Linked DNA regions of Homo sapiens. The protein of the gene in region 1 interacts with the protein of each later gene in a biochemical or structural test. Each region holds a gene or a part of one and is shown on either strand. Other genes may lie near its edges. The genes, in order: CA2 and SLC9A1.

Region 1 (7,411 bases):
CAGTAATACATATTACTAGAATAATTTATTTCACTATCCATTTTTTAAGGACTATTAGGAACCTCATCTGCTTTCATTTGTTGGAGATTTGTTTCTTCAGTGCTCCAAAAAAGACTTAAACTATCCAATTTCTATGTAGCATCCAATGAGATACATAATTTGGCAGACATTACATCCATTGAAAACAATGACATCATTGTGGCTCTTTAAAAAAGTACAGCTACAGACTAAAGTAGCTCACTTCTTTTGGTTTGTAAATGACTAGACGTGAAATGTTATAGTATTCTTTCTGTATGTGTAATACCTTGAGACCTTTGGCCTTGTCTTGTTATAAATATACAGTATTCTTTACAAGAAAAAAATTGTTTAATTTAATTATATGAGCACTGTTCCTTTGGAGTGAGAGGAATGCTTGGGAAAGCAATGTAGCAGAATCACCGAACTGTTTTCAATGTACAACCTTTACTTGATTCTAATAAATCATCATACTATGCCAGAAAGTGTGAGTATGATTGTAAGTGTGTGTGTGTGTGTGTGTGTGTGTATGTATGTATGTATGTGTGTACTGGGGAGGGGTGCACACAGACAGGCACAGGTAGGTTGAAAACATTTCTCAGATGATCTCCACATTATCCCCCATCAAATTGTCTTCCAGAATCACCATTTCAGAAAGCCAGGTGTTTGCAAATTTTTTTAAAGTTGAAAGGAGGGAAGAATTCTTTTTTCAAAACCAAGTTGACTATATAGGATAGCTGCTGACAAAGAATAGTCTACCTGACTAAATGGTTATAATTACATATTATATAATATATTAGTACCGTAGGTCACTACTCCAAAACTTTCTCATTTTGTTCCACCACTCCCCTCACTCCCACACCACCACCAAACAAAATGTGTTTGCAGCACCATTTCATTCTATGACCTTCAGAGGAAAGCACTCAGGAAAATAGGGCACTGGCAATTAAATTAACTGCTTAGCAAAGAAGGCAGCTACTATGTGTGAATGGGATTGTTCTCTTGTTTCAAAAGAGAGAGAGATAAAAAAAAAAAAGCAGGATTTTTTTTCTTCTTTCTCTTTCTTTTTTTTTTTTTTTTTACAGTGAGCATCCTGTAAACAGCTCTATTACCAATAAATACGGTAATTGGTTTTGTCAGTAATGGGCCAGGTATGTTCACCAACTCTAAAACATCTTCGTTTGTGAAATGAATTTCTGAGTAGATATCAAAACATGCTGCCATCTTTATCACACTAGCCCAATACTAAGAAATACTCATAAGTAAAACATTTTCCCAGAATTTCAGTATTTTAAATTGGCACGTTTTTGTTACTCTTCTCGCTGCTAACTTGAAGATAAGGCTCACTAAGATATACTTTTTAATGGATATGCATCAGCTCTGCAAGACAAAATATTTTACAATCTTAAAAGTTCAATTGGTGCAAATCTCATCGTGACTGATCTTTATTGCGAGGGGACTTTGCACCTTTTGTGATTTTTCACAGGCATATCGCAGTTATTCAATGGCCTTCATAGAAGCCAAGGGTTTTACAGGGAAGAAACGGCCCCGGGACACTTCAAACTAATTAGCCTACTTCTCAGAATCTGAGACCTAATGAAAATGATCAGGGTGGCATCCTTGAGTCCTGAGACAAACTGTATTATTAAGAGGGTTCCTGCCACTGTTCCTGGCTCCTTCCATTAAGCTCGGAAAACAGCTACTGGCTAAAAGACACAAGTTATTTTCTAAACACTGACCTGCTTTGTCCTGAGAGTCATCAAACTCCACGTTGAAAGCATGACCATTGTTGAGGATCCTCAGGGAAGTTGCTTGATCATAGGAAACAGACAGGGGCTTCAGGGAAGGGTCATACTTGGCTGTATGAGTGTCGATGTCAACAGGGGACTGGCGCTCTCCCTTGGCAATGGGGAAGTCCTTATGCCAGTGCTCAGGTCCTGGGGGAAAGAAGACATGTGAATCCCCCATTGTGGGGAAAGGTACACCCAGACCCCTAGAGAAGAGCAATCATTCCGGAGCCAATCTGCTCAGTTCCAATTTTAGAAGCATCACTTAACAATGGGCTAAATTTTGGGAAAACACGTAATCTGTGCCTCAGTTTCCACATTTGTAATATGGGATAATTAGAAATCTACCTCATAGATGTCGCTGTAAGAATTAGAATCGATATATGTAAAGCTCTTAGATCACTGAGTGCTATATAAATATTAGCTATTTTAAGGTCGTTTTACTGAAATTCAGCAACTGAAATCGGGCAGACACTAATGTCAGGGCTTGTGGTTGCGATTTTGGGATATGCAAGCTCACTTAAGACATTCAAGGAGGTCTGGATCCTTTCCTCACTGCCCAGGCCCGGGCCCACCCCACCTTTAACCGTCAGGGTTCCCCACTACCTGGGAAGCCCCACACCCTCCAAAGATGCGCTAGGTGCGCCAGACGCATGCTCCTCTGCTCCGCTGGCTCCGAAGAACCAGATCTGAGGCCAAGATAAAACCCGATTCCTGATGTCCGACCCCCTAACATTAGAAGTCGAGAGATGAAGGGAAAACTCGGAAATCAGAGCCATGGATTCAAACCAGCACTGGAAAATGCCCCGGGACAGTTCGTGCTGAGCGCCTTAGCCACAGGTGGTGCTGAAGCTGGAGGGGTGGGGTGGGGGTGGAAGGTGGGGGAGGGGGGAGGGGAGTCTCTTAATTTCTCTGCGATCAACAACTAGAATTTTCCGTTACAACCCTTTCCCGCCTCCTCCTAGGTCCGGTTAAAATGATCCCCAGGTCGGGACCCGGGAGGGACTGTCCTCGGGTCCCGCGGCCAGGGCTGCGCCTCCCCTCCCTCGGGCCCTACGCGCCTCCGGCGGACGCGGGGATTCCTCCACAGTGGCCTCGCAGCTGGGGCAAGGGGGACATCCCCGGCGCCGCGGAGCCGCGAGCGGAGCGAGCGCCCGGGGCGCACCTGAGCCTCCAGCACTCCCCGCGGCCGCGGTAAACAGCATGTGCGGGCGCTGCGGGCCCCGGGCCGGCATCCGGGCTCGGGGATCGGGGATCGGGGATCGGGGATCGGGGCGCCCCCGCGCTGGCCGTCGCCGGCACTCACCGTTGTGTTTGCCGTACCCCCAGTGATGGGACATGGTCGCGCTGGCGGTCGGGGCAGGGCAGGAATCGGCACCGATCTGGCGGCGGCGGCTTGGGCGCCTGCACTGTGTGTCCGCGGGTCGCGCCGGCACCAGCTTTTATAGGCTCCCGCCAACTTCGTGCTCGGGGGCGGCCCGGGGGAGGGGGCTCGGGTGGACCTAGGCGACAAGGGGAGGTGGTGACGGGCGGAGGTGAACTCCCCGCGCTCGGGGCGGGGCGGGCCGGGCGGGCGAGTCTCCGGGGGCGGGGAAAACGCCCTCTCGGCTGGCGCCCGGCGGGGCTCCGGGGCTCCGGGGCTCCGGGGCTCCTCTCCCGCCGCCCGGCTCCCCTCGGCCCACGGCAGGGCCCCGGTGTCCTGGGCTGGCAGCGAAGCTCGGAGCTCTGGGCGTGCGGCGGCTGCGGTGGCTCCTGGGCTCCTCCGTCCAACCCGGGCCGCGGAGCCTCTACGCGCACCCCATCCCCCTCCCGGCTGCGGAGTCTGGCGGCGGCGGGGACTGCTCGGGACCCGGACCCCCGGCGCCTTTCGTCCCCTGTCCCCATTGTGACCTGTCTCTTGGCCCCGGAGCCCTCCCGCCCCACCCGCGCCGGGGTCTCCAGCGCGAAGGGCTCAGTCTCTGGTGTCCCCGGCCTGGGGCTGGCAAGCTGGGTTAGGAGCTATGACCTTGGGGCAAATAGGGATACGATCCTAGAGGCGCAGGGGAGCGCGCAGCATGAGTGCTGAGAGGCACGCGCCCTCTGCTGCACGGCCGTGGAATAAAACGAGACAACGGCCCCACAGTCCCCTGCCCGCAGCCCACGCTCGGGCGAGCCTGGAGGATTGCATTTCCTCGTAGGCTGGCAGAGCCTTACATGAAGCGCTCATCTTCTCCTACTTTCCTCCTCTTTAAAAAATTAACGTGGGTGAGGAGACGTCCTAGTTGAGTACATATTGATTTGAAATAACCAAAACTTTTAACAAATCACTTTTCTCAGAAGAATCCAGTAAGAGAAAGATAATTTCTTCCAAAGACATGAGACGTTCCCTGGCTGGCCAAGAAAAATTGGCATCTGGCATACCTAGGAATCATTCAAAATAGTTTAATAGGAAGGACATTTTGAGGCCAGCCAGCATTATGACATTTGTGGGTCCTACGGCATTTCACCTTGGTGGGTCCCTTTTTCATAAACACGCATTTATACCAACACTGACATAAAGATAAATATCTTAATATTATATATTTAAACATTTTCTTTAACCAACACCTAATTTTTTTCTTTTTTGTTCTTATTTTAAAAGGAAACATTTTCCTGGGCATCTAAAAGTATTGTGGACCTGAGACACTGTGCTTACAGGGCCTACTGGGTAAGTGAGGCTGTTTTGAGATATAGAGAGAATTCATTTCCTACAAGGGATTTTGCCACAGAAAAATCCGGGGGTTTGTGGGAAGGAGTTCGGTTCTGTGGTCTCTGCAATCTCTGAGGGCAATAGTATTAGAGTTACAGTTGGGGAAGCAGGACACAGTTTAATGTGATTGTGTCGGCCTTGACATCACATTACTTACCTTTGAAAATATACAGATAAATACAAGGATAAGTTATTAGTGGACATTTTTGCAATATGTATCTCAAAATCACTCTTTACTATTTATTTCAGTCAATTTCATCCAAACAAATATGATTCATGTTTAGACTTACTTGTTCTAAGATTCTAGAAAATTGTGTACTTCTGCTTATGTGGGTTTTGGGTTGATGTCACAGGGAATTCTTAGGCAAGAAAGCAGCAATAAAGTTTTTAAATTTTTAGGACCATTACAAAATGGAGTTTGTAGCAAAGAAGAAGCTTTTATTTGTGCCTCTGTAGGTGCATTGTATCTGTTGGGGCCCATTGATGTAATTTTGTTTCTTTACATAATTTTCAAATATTAACTTAGTTGCTATGAGACTCTTCACTTGGCCCTGGAGATATGGCGTTGATAGGTGCCAAGAATTGAGTGCAAAGTTTGTGAATGTAGAGTGGCTTCCCGGGATTCTGTGGAGGGAGCCAGGCGATTTGATCAGCAGGAATCCTTGTCTTTCATTTTCCGTGAAACTGGATTGTGGCTTTCCTAACAGGGATGAAGTAAGAGCATGTTTGATTCTTAAATATGCGTAAAACTTCAAACACCACCAAACTGCAGTTCACCAAATGGATTATTGTCATGGGAATTTTTCCTTATCTCTCACTTCTGGAAAGTGAATTAATTCTCAGTGGGAGCAAGCCCTCCCCACAGAGCTGCTGTTAGGGAGAGTGTCACATGTTCACCACAGGGTGGAGAGTGGTTCACCTTTGGTTACTCAGAAGCAATCTAAATTTTTTAGCAGCGTTTTTGGTATTACAGTGGTTGGCTTAGCATTGTTTTATTTTCCTGGTCAATTTTTTTTAATGGAGTTAACTTTATGCATTCATGTTGGTCAGTCCCAACCTAACTTTATTTTACTGAAGGCATTCTTCTTAGCAGGCTGTCATGATTCACTAGCTGCAAAAGACTACTCTAATACTGGATTTGTTCAAATAAAAAAAGTGCTTATCTTATTATGTACCTATCTTTCCATTAGAGGGAAGGATGGGTTCATTTCAGAATAATCTTAAGTAAAGGAACTGACAGTAGCTTAAGAAAAGTACTTTTCTTTGCCCCAGAAAAAAAAAAATTCAGGCAGTATATCAGGAAAATGTAATGTAAAAAAACTTAAAGTCTGTGTTCCAATTATTATAATAAAAAAGCTTCTAACATATTATTCTTAGTAAAAATGTGAAAGTATTTGCTTTTTCTCAAAAAATGTAAAGATATTGTTAAAATATTTTACAAGGTGAGATACACATTATTTATTAAATATTTAATTAAAAAGCTAATAAAAAGCCAGATATTCTCATATTTGTTACCATTATAGTGTTTAAGTAGATATCTGGGGCTGGACTCAGTGGCTCCCGCCTGTAATCCCAGCACTTTGGGAGGCCAAGGCAGGCGGATCGCTTGAGGTCAGGAGCTCAAGACCAGCCTGGGCAACATGGCAAAACCCCATCTTTACAAAAAATAAGAAGTTAGCCAGGCATGGTGGTGTGCCCCTGTAGTCCCAGCTGCTTAGGAGGCTAAGGTCGGCAGATCGGAACCCAGGAGGTTGAGGCTGCAGTGAGCCATGATCATGCGACTGCACTCCAGACTGGGAAACAGGAAGACACTGTCTCAAACAAAATAAAAATAAATAAATATCTATGAAGGCCAAGAGCCATTTGTTTCTTGGGGCTCCCATAGGTCTTTGCATACACATCCTTCTATCCTAATATTGGCAATTCTGCATTGTAATCAGACACTCTATTGTAATCATTGGGTTATAATCCAATGCCCCAATAAGCTGTTGACTGCTCATTTGTAAAGCAGGAATAATGACACTCACCTCATTGTTGTAAGAATTCAGTCAGTGAGCATAGATAAATCACCTGTCACGTGTAGGCACTCAGTAAATGATGGCTATTCAGTCCCTCCTAGACAGTGCTAAACAGTTAGAATATAATTTAAGGAATGCAAAATTAAACACCTGGGCCAGGTTCATGGGAAACATTTAAGAGGAATGAGTCTCCACAGCAGGAGGTGTTTTTTTGTTTGTTTTGTTTTGTTTTTTTTTGTGAGAGGACAGAGGAGTGTTTGGGTCATGGAGATGTCCATTCTACCACGCTTATGTTTTTCTTCCTAAACTGTGCCCCCTGAAGTTGAGTACTGTGTCACATTATTTATCTCTGTATCTTAGGCACCTAGTACCCTTTACCTAGCCTGAGTCCCAAGATACATATAGTAGTTACTCACATAGTACTCCTTGAAATTATAAACTTTGAAAAATCCAAATGGAGATAATGGCAGTTTCACTTTGCAGAAGTTAGTAAATAATTTTGTTACAGATTATAGTTAGCAAATAACATTGTGCTGAAATTAGGTTGGTTTTGAATCTGGGTTAATTTACTAGCTTTGTGACTTTGGGCAAATTTCTTGATTGTGCTAAGATTCAGTTTCCTCATCTATAAAACTAGGATAATAATAATACTTACCTCACAGAGTTGTGGTGAGGACTAAGATGATACAGTGTGTGAAGGATTTAACCTAGTGCCAATAATTAGAGCTTGATCAATGTCAGTTATCATTACTACCGTTACATGTTTCTCAGCTCCTATTTTGTGCTTAATATTTTCTATGTGCTAGGTGAGCTACACAAGATAACTTGTCTCATCATCCATTCACTCAATGAATCATTCTGAA
Region 2 (5,101 bases), on another chromosome or scaffold:
TTGACTGTCTCATGAGGTCAGGTGTGCATTCTCCATTCATGGCGTTGTGTTGGGTTTTCTGATTAGGGAGGCTCAGTTTGTACACACCTGAGCTTATCTCATGCAGGGGTCACTGTCCCCACTTTACAGGTGAGAACTTGAGGGCTTCAGTGACTTCCCACTGCCCTTTTGGTCTTCCCACGGTTAAGAGCAAAATCTTAACCATGGAGCACGCGGCCCCATCCTTGCCTCCCCTGTCACTCTGACCCAGCCACCCGGCCTTTTCTCAGGTCCCAGTGTTCGTGGGCACAGCTCCCAGTTACAATGTTTGGGAACTTTCTGGGTCCTTTTCCACCCGGAAGCCTTGGCTCCTTCTTCAGTCCCCTCCTGGGATCTCACTCACTCGGGACTCAGGAGGGTCCTCCTCGCCGTCCCTCCCTCCCCTCTGCCTCTTTTTCACCTCTTGCACAAACACTGGGCACTGGTTAGTGCCGCTCTCCCCCGCGGGGCAGGGCACGTCCTGCTTAGCTCATTGTGGTATCTCAGTGCCTGGCATGTGGGAACAACCACCCCAGCAGCTGACAGCCATGAAGTGTTTCTGTGCCAGCCTTTGAACTAAGTACTTCACGCCCTCAGGCCACCCTCCCTCCTAAAGACCCTCGTCCCCAGAAAGCAGCCCTTGACTCTATTAAAAACTCACATTGATTTATTAGAATATGAAAAAGATTCAGTTTCTTCTGTACAGGCAGCAGAGTGGCAGCAGCTGCGGTGGCTTGGTACGTGGTTGTCGATGTCACCCTTGCATGGTGACTCCTGCCCAAACAGCACTTGCATGGAGAGGAGGATGGACAGATGGGCCGAGGACCCATGGCCCAGTCCCCTGCAAAAAGGGACACTCTGACTATTGCACAATCCTGGGGGAGTGCCCCAGGGACAAGGGGAAGGAGTGTGTGTGGGCAAAGGTCTCTGGGGGCCCAGGATTCTGCCCAATCCACCAGCCCCAGGGGACAGGGGATCCTCAGGGGAGGCCTTCTCCCCCCCACCGCCTCCACAATGGGCTCCACAGCAGGCAGGGTGTGGTACACACAAGGGAAAGGTTCCAGGGGCCAAACCCAGGGTGGGGGAAGTAAGAGCAGGCCAGCAGGACTGGAGGTCAGGCCCAAGAGCTAGGCAGGTGCCAAGAGGCCAGCATCTGTGAGGCTGGAGAGACTCTTGATTAGGAGTGGGAGTTACTTCTGATGTCACAGTCTTCGAGCAACAGTTAAGAGCCCAGCAGGCAGAGAGACGTGGGGGAGGGGTTGGACAGACAGGCACAGATGAGGAAGGGTAATTCTGGAGTGTGAGGAGGGAGTTAGAGGCAGAGCACTGTTCAGCCAGGGGTTTTCAAAATGTTTTAAAAACAGGAGCGCCCTCTGTGCAAACAATCATATATAGGAGTGTGAACAAACAAAACTTAAAAAGGCAGCACATTCTGGAGCCACGGCCAGTCCTTCCCCTAGCAGCTTCCCCTGAGGGGCCCAGTGGTCCCCGTGGGAGCACAGTTCGAAAAGCTCTGAGTCACGTCACTGTCACCGTAGAAACCACCCCTGCTCCAGGCAGAGACACTCAGAGATGCCCTCAGCCCGCAGCTCTGAGTAAGGACAGGTTGGGTGGTGGCCAGGGTGACAGAGCTGGCAGGAGGAGTGTGAGACCTTGGTGGGTCAGCAGTCCCTCCCCCAGCCATGTGCCTGGTACCCCTGGTTTGTCCCCTGATAAAGCAGGGCCTACTCAAGGGAGGCCTCAGCTCCCTCCCTTCCTGGGTGGGACCACAGCTGAGCCAGAGACTCTTTGGTTAGAAACTAAGATTGGTCTGAATGAGGAGGAGGATGAGGCAGAGGGAGGAGCCTCCGAGGCCCTAGTCCAGGTCCGGGAGAAGCCTGGATCTAGGGAGGGGCAGGGCCGGCCTCACCAGCCCCAGCAGTTCTGCCAAATGGATTGGGGAGGCAGCTCTGGTGGGGAGGATGCTTCCCGGGAGGCGGCAGGGGAGGAGCTGTGCTGGGGTGGGGGCTGTGGGCCCAGCTGCCATGCGGTAGGGGGAGGGGCAGGGCCAATCCGGGTCAGGAAGGGCAAGGGGAGCCCCCAGCAGCCCCTGCTCTGGTGGAAGAGTCTGTGAGGGGACAGGCGCTGCCTGCTGGCCCTGGTGTTACTGCCCCTTGGGGAAGAACGGTTCTCCCTCCCCAGGCTCAGGGTGTGGGCCTGGGTCACTGAGGCAGCGCTGTATCCTCTGGGAGCTGGGGCTGTCACTGGGCGCGGGGGTGAAGACATCGTCGGTTCCTGGGGACGAAGTCTCCTTGCTCCGCATCATGATGCCCCCATCGTCGTCCTCGTCCTCCTCAGCCACCTTTGCAGGATCCCGGCTCAACCCTAAGACTTTGCCCTTCAGCTCTTCATTCACCAGGTCCACAGACTCGGGTGACTGCGGGGAAGCCGGGTCGATGGTGATGACAGGCAGGTCCTCCTTCGGCTCATAGGCCAGTGGGTCTGGGGACCAAGAGCAAGGCACAAGCTGGGTTCCGCTCTGGAGCCCGGCCCAGCACGTGCCACTCGGCCGCGTCAGTGCCTCCTTCAGGCCTTCTCATGAGCACAGCCGTCCCGGTCCCAACAGGCCTCAGAAGCAGGCCTCTGCGACCTTCCACCCCACAGCTTCTCTTCCTCAGACTGTGGCCCTCTCCTTTGACAGGGGCTCCCAGAGGTGTCCCTCCACAGGCCAAGGCCTGGGGCTCCTCCCTGAGTCAGTCTGCCCTGGGGCCCTGCCCTCACGTTCCCCACACGTGTTGGGGGTCTCGATGGGGCAGATACCCTGCCTTCCTGCCAGGCACCGTGGCTCTCCCAGCTCCCCACACAGTCCTCGCCCGGAACGTCTCTCTCCCTAGGGATGGCCCCTGACGTAGAAGCAGCTCATGGCTTGGGAGGGGATCCTGAGGTCAGCGAGGGCCAGGCCTGTCCTCCCAGTGGCTGAGGACTGTTCCTGTGGAGCCCCATCCTCAGGAGGTGGCAGCTCAGAGTGCCCAGTCCTGAGGCCCCTCGCCAGGCCCTTACCTGAGCCGATGCGGGCCCGAGACATGGTGGGTGAGTCCAGCTTGTGGGCTGGCACCGTCAGGTAGTTGTTGATCTGACAGAGAGGACAGACGGGGTGAGCACAGGCAGCTGGGCAGAGGGAGCCCCTCAGGACAGAACCCGGCCAGTGCACACCCCACCTTTCGTATATGCAGGGCGCTTGCTCCCCCTCCCTTGTGCCTGTGTGGGCACCCGTACTGGCCCCTCAGGAGCTCCTAAGGGCTCATCCCAGGCTCCTGTCACAGCCTCCCTGAATACACCTACACTGCTCAGCCTTAAATCCACCCATTCCTCTGTCCCCTGCCACTGCCCTAACCCAGGCCATGCCCCACAACCCCACGCCAATCCCTTGCTTAGAACTCATGGCTCTCCATGCCCTTACACTGCTAAAAGCCCCTCGAAAGCCAAACCCTGTTCCTAGAATGGGTACATTTCCTTAGAGGCTGTGGCGGAGCTTGGGCGAGTGGGGTGGGATACAGATTCCCAGAGGAAGGCAGAGGCTACCTTCTGCTCCAGCTGCCGGGCCTTCTGCCTCCGGAGCAGCATCTGGTTCCAGGCTTCCTCGTAGGGGTCTGCCACCAGCGTGTGTCTGTTGTAGGACCGCAGCTGTGGGAGGGACAGCGTCAGGGCAGTGCGGGCCCCGGAAGGCTCTGCTCATGGAGGGGTGGGGGCAGTGCTGGAGGCCGGGCCAGTCCTGGGGTGGGTGCCGAGGGGCACGGGCAGGGCAGGGCTGCCGTAGAGAGGGGCTGAAGGGCTCCTGTACCCTGGGGGTCGGGCTGGGGAGCAGGCCCTCACCCGCTGCCTGGTCTTCTGCAAGTTGTTCCTCAGGATTTTGCGGATCTCCTCCTCCTTGTCCTTGGACAGTGCTGGCAGGATGCGCTCGGAAGGCAGGGACTTGGGGTGGATGTTCCTGGGGCAATAGGGCATCGGTTAGGTCCCCAAGATTCTTGGGATCCTGGTGCCTCCCAGGTTTGGCCAGAAGGAAGTCACCCTAGGGATGACCCAGGTGGGCGCCAAAGCCTCAGGTCCTTGGTGCGAGCCCACAGCTCTCTTGTCCGCCCCAACAGGACAACAGAAGACCCCGCCCCCCAGGTGGCCACCTCCAACCGGGCTTGAGGGGCCGGTGTGTGGGAGCAGAAGCTGCCTGGTTGCCCCAGCACTCACTGCATGGAGACGGTGGAGACGGCAGAGGGGATCTTGCCCATGCCCCCGCTCTCCACCAGCTCGATGGCCTGCTTCATCTCCATCTTGTGGTAGAAGGCAATGAGCTGGGGCTCCTTGGAGCGCTCGCCAGCTATCAGACACTTCTTCACATATTTCTTATTAAACCGGTTGAGCCTGGTGGGAGGAGGAGGGAGACGGATGGCGCCAGCTTCCAGGAGTGGGGAGATGCCCAGGCCCAGGAGACCCTTGCCTGCCCCTCCCTGCCTGCCCACCAGGCCTGCCACCTACTTGTCCTTCCAGTGGTGGTGACCGTAGTGGCCACAGATGTCTTCGATGCCTGTCAGAAGGTGGTCCAGGAACTGAAAGGGGCCCAGGGCCAAGTCAAGCCTCGCTGTGGGGCGCCTTCCCTACCAAGACCTCTGACTAGCCCCACTCCCTCCCGTAGCTGCAGCCCTGCTGGGTCCAGCCCTGTGGTTCCATGAGCAGCCAGGAGGTGGCGCCCACACTCCACTCATCGAACCCAGCGGCCCTGACTCTGGGTATCTCGAAGCCTTGCCTGTGTCCGGCTGAGCCCCCTTCTCTAATCCCACCTGGGACCTATGCCTGGGATAGGTTTCAAATGGAGGCAGAGATGGCATGATGCCCCCTCCTCAGGCTCCCAGCTGCTCACACCACACCTTCCTATGGCTAGACCCTGGCGGCCTCCTGGGGCAGAGGGAGCCCCTGGGCACTGGCACAGGGAGAAGGGGCTGATGGGGGGCAGAGACTTGAGGCCCAGCTGCTCCCTATCTCCCTGTTCCTCCTTCTGCAACCAAGGGCCCAGCCCGCACTCCAGTACCTGTGTGTGGATCTCTTCGTTGAT

What was found.
Region 2: the proteins of CA2 (region 1) and SLC9A1 form a complex in vitro, tested with the Homo sapiens proteins (one study listed by BioGRID).

The regions. Positions count from the first base shown.
Region 1 is NC_000008.11:85,459,813-85,467,223, reverse strand, and holds the start of CA2 (carbonic anhydrase 2), read right to left. Parts: upstream 3,218-7,411; 5' UTR 3,143-3,217; coding exon 3,109-3,142; intron 2,997-3,108; exon of another isoform or gene 2,891-2,996; intron 2,643-2,890; exon of another isoform or gene 2,309-2,642; intron 1,953-2,308; coding exon 1,755-1,952; intron 1-1,754. UniProt on the Homo sapiens protein: Catalyzes the reversible hydration of carbon dioxide. Can also hydrate cyanamide to urea. Stimulates the chloride-bicarbonate exchange activity of SLC26A6. Essential for bone resorption and osteoclast differentiation.
Region 2 is NC_000001.11:27,098,146-27,103,246, forward strand, and holds the end of SLC9A1 (sodium/hydrogen exchanger 1), read right to left. Parts: coding exon 5,078-5,101; intron 4,599-5,077; coding exon 4,528-4,598; intron 4,414-4,527; coding exon 4,240-4,413; intron 3,986-4,239; coding exon 3,871-3,985; intron 3,682-3,870; coding exon 3,580-3,681; intron 3,131-3,579; coding exon 3,058-3,130; intron 2,500-3,057; coding exon 2,162-2,499; 3' UTR 664-2,161; downstream 1-663. UniProt on the Homo sapiens protein: Electroneutral Na(+) /H(+) antiporter that extrudes Na(+) in exchange for external protons driven by the inward sodium ion chemical gradient, protecting cells from acidification that occurs from metabolism.